3 linked regions of the Homo sapiens genome follow. The protein of the gene in region 3 purifies or fractionates together with the protein of the main gene of each other region. This does not show direct contact. Each region holds a gene or a part of one and is shown on either strand. Other genes may lie near its edges.

Region 1 (3,750 bases), on a different chromosome or scaffold from region 3:
TCCCTGAGAAATCTTCTTCCTCCCGGCGGTGCTCACGTGGAGTCCTCGCCCACAATGGACCGACGCTTTCGCAGCCCAGCCCGGGTCCTCCCAGGGGCCCGGCCAGCGATGCATCTGAGGTGACAGGTGGGGGACCCTGCACCTCTCTCTGAAAACTGAACCCCAGCCCAGGCATCGCTCCGAGCTCTCAACCCAGGCATCCGAGTGGAAAGTGGCAAGCCCGGGTCCCCCAGCCTTGGTGCTGCCTCCCCTGCGCGCGGGACAGGGGAGAGAGGAAGGAGGGATGCTGGCCTGGAGAGAGGCAGGAGGGACACTGACCTGGAGAGAGGCGGGAGGGACACTGACCTGGAGAGAGGCGGGAGGGACACTGGCGTGGAGAGAGGCGCGCGGGACAGGGGAGAGAGGCGGGAGGGACACTGGCCTGGAGAGAGGCGGGAGGGACGCTGGCCTGGAGAGAGGCGGGAGGGACACTGGCGTGGAGAGAGGCGGGAGGGACACTGGCGTGGAGAGAGGCGGGAGGGACGCTGGCGTGGAGAGAGGCGGGAGGGACGCTGGCGTGGAGAGAGGCGGGAGGGACGCTGGCCTGGAGAGAGGCGGGAGGGACGCTGACCTGGAGAGAGGCGGGAGGGACGCTGGCCTGGAGAGAGGCGGGAGGGACACTGGCGTGGAGAGAGGCGGGAGGGACACTGGCATGGAGAGAGGCGCGCGGGACAGGGGAGAGAGGCGGGAGGGACACTGGCCTGGAGAGAGGCGGGAGGGACACTGGCGTGGAGAGAGGCGGGAGGGACACTGGCCTGGAGAGAGGCGGGAGGGACACTGGCCTGGAGAGAGGCGGGAGGGACACTGGCGTGGAGAGAGGCGGGAGGGACACTGACCTGGAGAGAGGCGGGAGGGACACTGGCGTGGAGAGAGGCGGGAGGGACGCTGGCCTGGAGAGAGGCGGGAGGGACGCTGACCTGGAGAGAGGCGGGAGGGACGCTGGCCTGGAGAGAGGCGGGAGGGACACTAGCCTGGAGAGAGGCGGGAGGGACACTGGCGTGGAGAGAGGCGGGAGGGACGCTGGCCTGGAGAGAGGCGGGAGGGACGCTGACCTGGAGAGAGGCGGGAGGGACGCTGGCCTGGAGAGAGGCGGGAGGGACACTAGCCTGGAGAGAGGCGGGAGGGACACTGACCTGGAGAGAGGCGTGAGGGACACTGGCCTGGAGAGAGGCGGGAGGGACACTGGCCTGGAGAGAGGCGGGAGGGACACTGACCTGGAGAGAGGCGGGAGGGACACTGGCGTGGAGAGAGGCGGGAGGGACGCTGGCCTGGAGAGAGGCGGGAGGGACGCTGACCTGGAGAGAGGCGGGAGGGACGCTGGCCTGGAGAGAGGCGGGAGGGACACTGACCTGGAGAGAGGCGTGAAGGACACTGGCCTGGAGAGAGGCGGGAGGGACACTGGCCTGGAGAGAGGCGGGAGGGACACTGGCGTGGAGAGAGGCGGGAGGGACACTGGCTGGCCTGGAGAGAGGCGGGAGGGACACTGGCCTGGAGAGAGGCGGGAGGGACGCTGACCTGGAGAGAGGCGGGAGGGACGCTGGCCTGGAGAGAGGCGGGAGGGACGCTGACCTGGAGAGAGGCGGGAGGGACGCTGGCCTGGAGAGAGGCGGGAGGGACGCTGGCCTGGAGAGAGGCGGGAGGGACACTGGCGTGGAGAGAGGCGCGCGGGACAGGGGACAGAGGCGGGAGGGACACTGACCTGGAGAGAGGCGGGAGGGACAGGGGAGAGAGGCGGGAGGGACAGGGGAGAGAGGCGGGAGGGACGCTGGCCTGGAGAGAGGCGGGAGGGACACTGGCCTGGAGAGAGGCGGGAGGGACACTGGCCTGGAGAGAGGCGGGAGGGACACTGACCTGGGAAGCCCGCGGCTCGGGGCAGGCGAGGATCAGGAGCAGAAGGAAGAGCGCGCGCGGAGAGCTGGGCACCATCTTGCCAGTCGGAATCCCGCTGCCTGGGAGGGGAAATAACTTTGCCTCCGCTGCCGAGTTTGTCCCAGCGATGCGGCAGCCGTCCCTGCAGGGTGCGGGGCGCCGCGCGGCCGGGGGGCGGCTGGGGCAGGGGGGGAGGCGGGAGGCCCCGAGCGCAGCGCGTCCCGCGGGGATCGGCGCCGCCCGGGCCTTGCGAGGGTCCAGGTGCGCCCGCAGCTGCCCGCACGAGACAGTCCGCGCGAGGCGGGGAGGCGCCGGCCCCTGGGCTAAGGACGAGGGAGGAGGGGCTGCCCGGCCGGGAATGCGCCCGGGAGCGCGCCCAACCCGCGACGCCGAGGACGAGCGCGGGCATCCTCGGGGCCTGGCAGGGATGGGCGGCCAGTGCCCCGCATATGTGCGGGTGACTGGAAGCCCACCCTGGGCGGGTTCACTCCCGACCGTCCTATTTCCCAACCAAGTAGACTGAGGCTCAGTCACCAAGGACAAGTGGCAGAACAGAAACCCAAACCCAGGTCTGTCCTACTTCAAAGCCCACGCGACACCCTCCTCCCGACATTCCTAGAAGGGGGCCAGGAAATGGGCTTCATAAGCTTGACGTGGGGTGGACTGAGCTCTCCATCCGAATAAACTAGTGTCCCTTTAAATAATGCAATGGGGCCGTGAGAACACGCACGCACAGTGAGTAGATACACACACAGTGATACAGTGAGGGGATCTACGTCCTTCTGATTCACTGTCCTCCTTGCTCAAGGGAAGGAGAAACTCAGTTTAAATCGGAGGTCAGGTTCTAGAACATTGCCTGCCTTGCTGAAGTCGAATCAGGAAGTGCCAGGCCGGCATGAGCAGTCTGAAGTCCCCTGCCATCAGGGCTGTGGTACAACCAGATGCCTCAGACCTGAGCTCCCGGAAGGCATGACTGACGTTCTTCCTGGAAGGTTTTCTGAAGGCAGTCACTGCAGATGTCCTGGGACACACAAGTCTGGTCAAGCCCCAGATCTCTTTTTCCTCTTCCACATTTCACTTTGTTGAGCCCACTCAGAGCTCAGGGAACGGGGAGCCCACAAGACTGTGACCACAGAGCAGGAGCTGTTTCCCAGCAGAGGCCAGAAAGGAAAGCTGGAGTCCTGGCTTAGTCCCTTCAAACTGCTATAGCAAAATACCATAAACTGAGTGGCTTATAAACAATAGAACGTGTTTCTCACAGTTCTGGAGACTGGGAGGTCCAAGATCAAGGTGTCAATAGATTAGGTGTTTGGCGAGGGCCAGAGTTCTGGTTCCCGTGTCCTCACAGGGGAAAGGCAGCTCTCTGGGGCCTCTTTTCTGAGGGCACTAATCCCAATTTTGAGGGCTCTGCACTCATGACCTAGTCACCTCCCAAAGGTCCCACCTCCTAATGCCATCATCTTGGGAATGAGGTTTCCAACATATAAATTTAGGGGAGACACCAACATTCAGAACCTAGCCAGTGCCCCAAAAAGCAGGGGACATGGTTTAGGCTGGCCTCCTGGGCATTGGTTGCCCAGGAAATCCTACAGTGCTGCTCCCCCAACCTTCCCATGCAAAGGAGGTGGAACGGGACCCATGTAAATCTTTTTTTTCTTTGAGACGGCGTCTTGCTCTGTTGCCTAGGCTGGAGTGCAGTGGCCTGATCTCAGCTCACTGCAGCCTTGCCTCCCTGGTTCAAGTAATTCTCCTGCCTCAGCCTCCCAAGCAGCTGGGGCTACAGGCATGCACCACCACGCCTAGCTAATTTTTGTATTTTTAGTAGAGACAGGTTTTCACCAT
Region 2 (3,650 bases), on a different chromosome or scaffold from region 3:
GTCTCAGCCTCCAGAGTAGCTGGGATTATAGGCACCAGACACCATGCCCTGCTAATTTTTTTATTTTTGTATTTTTAATAGGGATGGGGTTTCTCCATGTTGGCCAGGCTGATCTCGAACTCCTGACCTCAGGTGATCCACCCACCTCGGCCTCCCAAAGTGCTAGGATTACAGGCGTAAGCCATCGCGCCCAGCCAAAACTTTCCATTTTTAAAGAGAAGCTGGAAAGCCAGATTAATACATGAAATATTCTAGTTTTTTAAATGTTGTTAAGTTATTTAAATATTTGAGAAAAGAGAAAAAGAGCTCTAAAGCCACTTGTTTCCAAGCTATTCATGGTAGACCACCAATTTCCAAATGCTTGATGAGTAGTGCTCACTGCTAATCACTCCATTATTAAATTTTCACTAGTTTATGGTAAAATCTTTTAAAAGGACAATAAAATGAATTTTTCTATAAAGCTAACTAAATCTACCCAATATAAAGAACTGCTTTCCCCCTGGTGATTATATTCTTACATATTTTGTTAAAATACCCTTCATTTATCTTTGTATTTGTTAAAATATCTTTTATGAAATAATAGTATTGTTTTAAATACATTTAATTGAAAAATTAAGAGTTGGTGACTTAACACTGTCTTGTTGCATTTAGTTTTGTTTTACTTATTTTTGAACTCCAAATGACTGGGCATTGCTGCTAGGACAATGGCAAGTCACTGAAGGTTTTATTTAAGCACTATTGTGTTGACATAACCCTGGACTCCAGCAGTGATGTGGAAGATTTGTTGGTTGAGACTAGAGTCCCAGAAATAATCGAATATGAAAACCCAAGGGAACTTCTGCCTTACTCCTTCATTTAATGACTGAGGACACTGAGATACAGTAGGGAAGTGAATTGTCCACAGTCACCGGGGGAGGTAGTAACAGAGCCACAATTACATCCTGTTTTTCTGACATGAGACAAGTGTTTCAACTGCCCCAGTCCTTTCTGCATCAGCCACACAGTATGCTGAGACACTGAAGTGCCCAACTGTTGGAAAGCTTAGTAAAGGGAAGACTTCAGGATAACAGAATAGGTGATTTGTGAAATTGTGCATTTCTAGTGAAACTTAAAGCCCATGTATCATGTTCATTTCATTTTTAAGGTACAGAAGTTTGCCTTTAATTGCTGCTGAGTTAATTTTCTGTTAGGATGTTTCTTTCATGAGTAGGCCTTTAGGTTTAAGAGTATAACATAGTTCACTTATTGTGATATTTGGCTATGTTAGAACCTCAGTTTATTAGCAAATACACCCACTTGACTTTCCCCTTGATACGTCCCAGTTTCCACAGGTGCTTATGTACCTACCCATACCAAAAAATTTTTTTCTTGTCATTTACTCTGTGTATGTGTGTCTCTGTCCTATTTCCCCACTTGACAGATACATTTTACATGGATAAGATAACATATTTTATTCTCTGGTACCTGTGACTGGCACACAGCAGGGATTTGACTTGATTATTAAAGAATGACAATTGCAATAATGATAACTTTCATACACTAAGCACCATCCATATGCCAGGTATTACTCTAAATGCTTTTTAAAAGACATCATCTGAAGATTAGTCTAAAAATATTCAGTGTTTGCCTCCCATGTGCTGAGTGCTGTGTTGAATGCTGGAGAAATAGCAGTAAATAAAATGGGGTTTACGGCCTGAACTTCAGTGCCTTCCTTCTCAGCACTGCCTCAAACCTCTCCTGATTCATGCTAGCCCTAAATACATGATTGTACATAATTAAGAAAAGAATTACAGTATGTCAGTTGCTGTGAGGGAGAGATACTGAATGTTGGGAGTAAGAAAAGACTTCTTGGATAAAATGAAAATTAAATTATGACATGAAGGGTGAGCTAGGTGTTATTCAGAAGAAAGGCAGGTGGTGTGTTTTATGCAGAGAGAGTATTCAGGGCAGAAGCCCAGATGGAAGGTACCAAACATGGTTTGGTTCAACCAAACTTTGAAGAACAGAAGTCGAGAAAGGCTGGAGCAGAGGAGGGAAAGAGGACAAGATCATGCTACCTGAAGTCTTGCTATTAAACTCCCATGGTGCCTTGTGAAGCTCTGTATAATGCTTTTTATAAACAGCATCTAATCAAGTGTAGTTAACCATATAATTTGTATATTATTTGCCTAAAAAACTGTCTTTTCTGCTCTGTTGAGCTCCTTGAATACAGGGTGCTATGTAGGTCTTATTTCATCACTAGTACTGCCCTAAACTCCTCCCCATATGCTTGTTTTCTATTTTATCTTTAGTAAAGATAAAGATAAAGACATTTTATCTTTAGTAAAGATAAAGATAAAGACATTTTGTCTTTACTAAAGATAAAGATATTTTATCTTTAGTAAAGATAAAGATAAAGGTATTTTGTCTTTAGTAAAGATAAAGATAAAGGTATTTTGTCTTTAGTAAAGATAAAGATAAAGGTATTTTATCTTTAGTAAAGAAAATGAATGCTTTTCCGACAGGCCCACCTACCTGTAAGCACTATACATAGTTTCCTTACTGAGTTGAATTTGTAGTATTTCATTTATTTATTCATCCATTTGATGGACATAAGTGTGTGCCAAGAAAACTTAGGAAAATGTAGGAGGTTCCTCATGGGCTAATTCTTGATCTAGACTTAAAGCTAGGCATAACTGAGACCAAAAAATCTCACCTGCAAAGCAATATATTACAATTTTAAAACATTTAAATTTTAATGTATTGGGTTATGACTTTTTTTTCGTTTTTGTGGTTTAATTATGCCAGTATTTCAAAACCTGCTTTTGTTTTTCCCGACCCAGCCCATCTGCCAAGCAGCCTATCAGAATGACTTTGGACAAGTGTGGCGGTGGGTGAAAGAAGACAGCAGCTATGCCAACGTTCAAGATGGCTTTAATGGAGACACGCCCCTGATCTGTGCTTGCAGGCGAGGGCATGTGAGAATCGTTTCCTTCCTTTTAAGAAGAAATGCTAATGTCAACCTCAAAAACCAGGTGAGGTCATGACATGAATGGAGAGTGTAATTGTTCATGATAATTCTTTTCTCTTTGAATCACTAGAAGTGGTGCATGTCATTTTTTAAATTGCTTGCAGCTCCTAATACGAACAATTATCTTAGCCTACTTTAGAAAGACTGACACATACCAAGGACATTTTATTAGGCTAAACAGCAAAATAAAACATAGTTCAATCAGCAGGCATAATTTGTGATAAATTATGTCTTTTTACCTCTGGTTCACTTATTTGGCTGGATAGAGCTTCTTTCTTTTCCTTCTTCCTCTCTTCATCCTCCTCTTTCTTCCTCTCCCCTCTTTCTCATTACTAACACAGAAGCAATGGCAAAGATTTCTTGGAAAAGAAATGCTGTTTCATTAGTTAGATTTTTACCTGCTATATTAATGTCCTGATCTCCAGAGGATCCTATAGTGTTCTTGTAGAATGAAAGAGTACTATTGAGAAATTTACCAAGGACAAATAAGCTCATGAGCCAGAGGTTACTTGAAGTCACACAAAAAGGTGTAAAGAATATATTTAAAGATGCAATATTAGCTACTTTGGAGCCTTCAGGACCAAGAAAGAGAAGAATATGTGTGTATTGCTGTGAAAATCCTTGTGGAGCCCTTTCTGAA
Region 3 (3,650 bases):
ATGCTAAATGAAAGAAAGTAAATCAAAAGACTATGTACTGTATGATGCCATATATATGAAATCCTAGGAAAGAGAAAGGTGTAGTGACAAAACACAAATCAAGGTTGCTAGGCGTCAGAGGTGGGGAGAAGGAATTTACTGCAAATAACTATGAGTTAAATTTTTGGGGTGATGAAAATGTTCTGTATCATGACTGTGATGGTGGTTAAACAACTGTATACAATTGTCAAAAAAGAATTGTGCACTCAATTTGAAATTTTATTGTCTGTAAATTATATCTAAAAAAGATGAATTAGCTGAACGATCTGGTTCTACTGAATTAAAATTCTATGTAGAGTATCAGAGTGTGATTACAAAATGTTTTGAGAGGATACTATAGAATTTCTTGTGTAATTTTGGTAGGGTTTTAGGATGTTCTGAAAGCAAAGGCCAAGGAACAATGACTCATAGATGATAGTCCCACAACAGTCTACACAAAAAAAGGTAAATATAAATTTATATCTCCCTTACTCCCATTAGTACCATGCCTAAAATACTTTGTTTACAGAATTACTGTTTCTGATGAATGAACCATTAAAGAGAAACACCGAGTACAGAGTTTCAGATTGGGAAGATGAAAAAATTTCTAGAGATGAATGCACAACAATATGAATGTACTTAATGCCACAAAACTGTAAACTTAAATGGTTAAAATGGTAAATTTCATATTATGTATATTTTACAACAATAAAAATTTTTTTTAAACATTGGGGGGTAGGGGAGAGGCACTCCAAAAAAATGTACATAAATCTAGAAATGCACAGGAAGTTCATTTTGAAAGAGTTCCTTTGGTTTGATTAATAAAGACTATTCTACTGTTGCTTTCACAAAATCAAGCTTAATAGTGGTTATTAGGTACGATTCTACTAAAGGAAATTGTGCTTACCAACTCTATCCAAGCTTATTTTTAATGTTTAGGGCTCTTACCAGAATATAGTTTTTGCTTGTAACAGTTTGAGTTGTCTAACACAGACAGGAAAAACACTGGGAGCTCCAAAAAGGTTCTACATTTGGATGGCCCAAATACATGTCATTTTGTCATCTAAATTAATCTGCAAACTAAACTGAACACAAATACTCAAAACATGCTAACAGAAGCCCTAAAGTGACTGTGGCCTGGGGTTAAATAAGGTCACACAAGAACTGCTAAGATAAACATCAAATTCATGTCATTTGGTAAACGAGAAAGCCATCTGTGCAATTCACTGTGGGTAAACTGCAGACTGACTGGGGCTAGACATTTGTCAAACATAGTCGTTATTAATAGTCATGCCAATAAGTGTTAAAAACCCAAAAATCCCTAGATTTAAGTCCAGAGATGGCAGAGTTGTAGTAATCTACCTAAAGCTGGCAGGACATTTCTATTAAGAAATAGCATTAATAGAACCTTCTATTACATTAATAGAAAGTAAGTTCAAAGGGCACATGCCAAGAACAGGAAAGAATGTATGCGCTTTAAGCAAGTTCTATGTACTATCTGGAGAACAAGTTCTGAGTTACAGGCTAAGTGGATTTTAGGAGGGCAATTTCAATTTAGGCAGGAAATAAATAATAATGATAGTAGTAGTCGTTATCAGTAGCAGCAGTAAATTCTTACATCATGCTTCCTATTTGCCAGATATTAGTTCTAAGCACTTTCATTATATTAACTTGCTTAATCCTTCTAACAACATTGTGAGGCTGGCAAACCATTGTCTTCATTTTGCAGAGATGAAGAAACAGGCTCAGGAAGACTAGGTAACTTTCCCATTGTAACCCAGATGAGAGGTGGCAGAGCCATCTCAGGGTGTCCTGCTCCAAGTCCAGAGTTCTTGCTCTTAATAATACTATATTGCTTGTCTTTGGAAAACACCACTGCTTTCCTGGGAAGCAAGAAGGTTAAAGGAATTGTTCTACTGTAGACCAGACTGGAGAGTAGTATTAGAAAGAACTAGTGAGAAATGAGGAAAAACTTTCAACATTTATTAAAAGCCTGCCATGTACCAGGCATTTTATATTTTAGGATAGTAGGCAACTGACTACAAAAAAGTAAATGACTTACAGGCCCTGAAATTCACCTTAAACTTGTATTTTTAATTAAGTTTATTATTTCTTTGCATTTAAACACAAAGATATATCACAATGATCAAATGCAAAAAAAAAAAAACATTATTTTACTTCATCTTCACAAGAATTCAATTCAGTTCTTTCAAAAAAATTTGCTAAGCATTTATGTACCAGGCACAAGACATATAAAAAAGGTGAATGTATTAAAAATTAAAGAAATTGGTTCCTGTTCTTTAAAAAAAAATCTATAGTCTACAATAACTCTTTGCAATTATTCTCATTTTACATAGAAAGACACTGCTCAGATGGGTTAAATAACCTGTTTAGGGTCCAACCTGTAAATAGCTGAGACAGGATTTGAACTCAAGCCCTTCTAACTCCAAAACCTATACACTTTTACCCTACAGAAAGCTAAAAGTGTTTCTGAGTGTAGGGACCGGAAAAAAATTTCCAACTGACTTCAAATAACAAATACAAGGCAACTGTATTCTCGTTAATATTTTAGAACTGTGTCATGTTAGTTGAGAACTTGAAAAGAGGAAGTGTAAATTCTAGACTAAATCTTGGGTTACAGACCTCACACAGATTGAATATAGAAGAAGTACACAGCAAGAGTCACTCACATTGTAAAATAGTTGAACATTTTAAAATACATATTACAGTGGACACGTATGGTCCCACTGGAAATATATAAGACAATGTTACTTTCAAGAGTTCCCAGTCTTTGAAGCTGAAATCCTTCTCTCTTAAATCTTATTAAGTAGTTAATTGTAGCAGAAAGTTACTCAGTTAGGTCCCAATAGGCACAGGCCAGAAAGTCCTCTGAAAGCTGCCCTCAGTACCTGCACTGTCACAAACCTACTAAGTGTATTCTATAGTTAGAAAAAATGTATTGATATAACTTTCTGCCATTGATATAACTGTTCTACCTAAAAAGAACAAGATATTAAAGATACCATGCTTTATAAAGAGATGATCCTATTCATTGTGAGAAACTGAACTTATCCAGCTATATGCTATTTTATTTAACTTTGGAACTGCATTCATCAGTACGCATTTATGAGATGGCTAAGGTCTGAGGGTATAGGATGGAACCACTTGGCCATCTCAAAATCATTAGCCTAGATTTGTTAAATTATGCTTTGCCCAAACTGAATTAACCAGGGATAAATGATTTTGAAAGAAATAAGGGTTGACATGTGGGTGACAAAAAAAAATTAATTAAAAAACAGAACGGGTGTAATGGCTCACACCTGTAATCCCAACACTTTGGGAGGCAGAGGTGGGCAGATCACTTGAAGTCAGAAGTTCGAGACCAGCCTGGCCAACATGGTGAAACCCCATCTCTACCAAAAATACAAAAATTAGCCAGGCATGGTGGCACACACCTGTAATCCCAGCTACTCAGGAGGCTGAGGCAGGAGAATCACTTGAACCTGGGAGGTGGTGGCTGCAGTGAGCTGAGATAGTGCCGCTATACTCCACAGCCTGGGCGACAGAGCACAACTCCGTCTCAAAAAAAAAAACAAAAAACAAAAAACAAAAAAAACATTAAGGGAATGACT

What was found.
Region 1: the proteins of EDEM3 (region 3) and FBLN7 purify together in Homo sapiens (co-immunoprecipitation; one large-scale study listed by IntAct). This does not show direct contact.
Region 2: the proteins of EDEM3 (region 3) and ANKRD22 purify together in Homo sapiens (co-immunoprecipitation; one large-scale study listed by IntAct). This does not show direct contact.

Annotation. Positions count from the first base shown.
Region 1 is NC_000002.12:112,136,871-112,140,620, reverse strand, and holds the start of FBLN7 (fibulin-7 isoform 1 precursor), read right to left. Parts: upstream 2,237-3,750; 5' UTR 1,966-2,236; coding exon 1,891-1,965; intron 1-1,890. UniProt on the Homo sapiens protein: An adhesion molecule that interacts with extracellular matrix molecules in developing teeth and may play important roles in differentiation and maintenance of odontoblasts as well as in dentin formation.
Region 2 is NC_000010.11:88,831,199-88,834,848, reverse strand, and holds part of ANKRD22 (ankyrin repeat domain-containing protein 22), read left to right. Parts: intron 1-2,822; coding exon 2,823-3,014; intron 3,015-3,650.
Region 3 is NC_000001.11:184,744,849-184,748,498, forward strand, and holds part of EDEM3 (ER degradation-enhancing alpha-mannosidase-like protein 3 isoform 2 precursor), read right to left. Parts: intron 1-3,650. UniProt on the Homo sapiens protein: Involved in endoplasmic reticulum-associated degradation (ERAD). Accelerates the glycoprotein ERAD by proteasomes, by catalyzing mannose trimming from Man8GlcNAc2 to Man7GlcNAc2 in the N-glycans.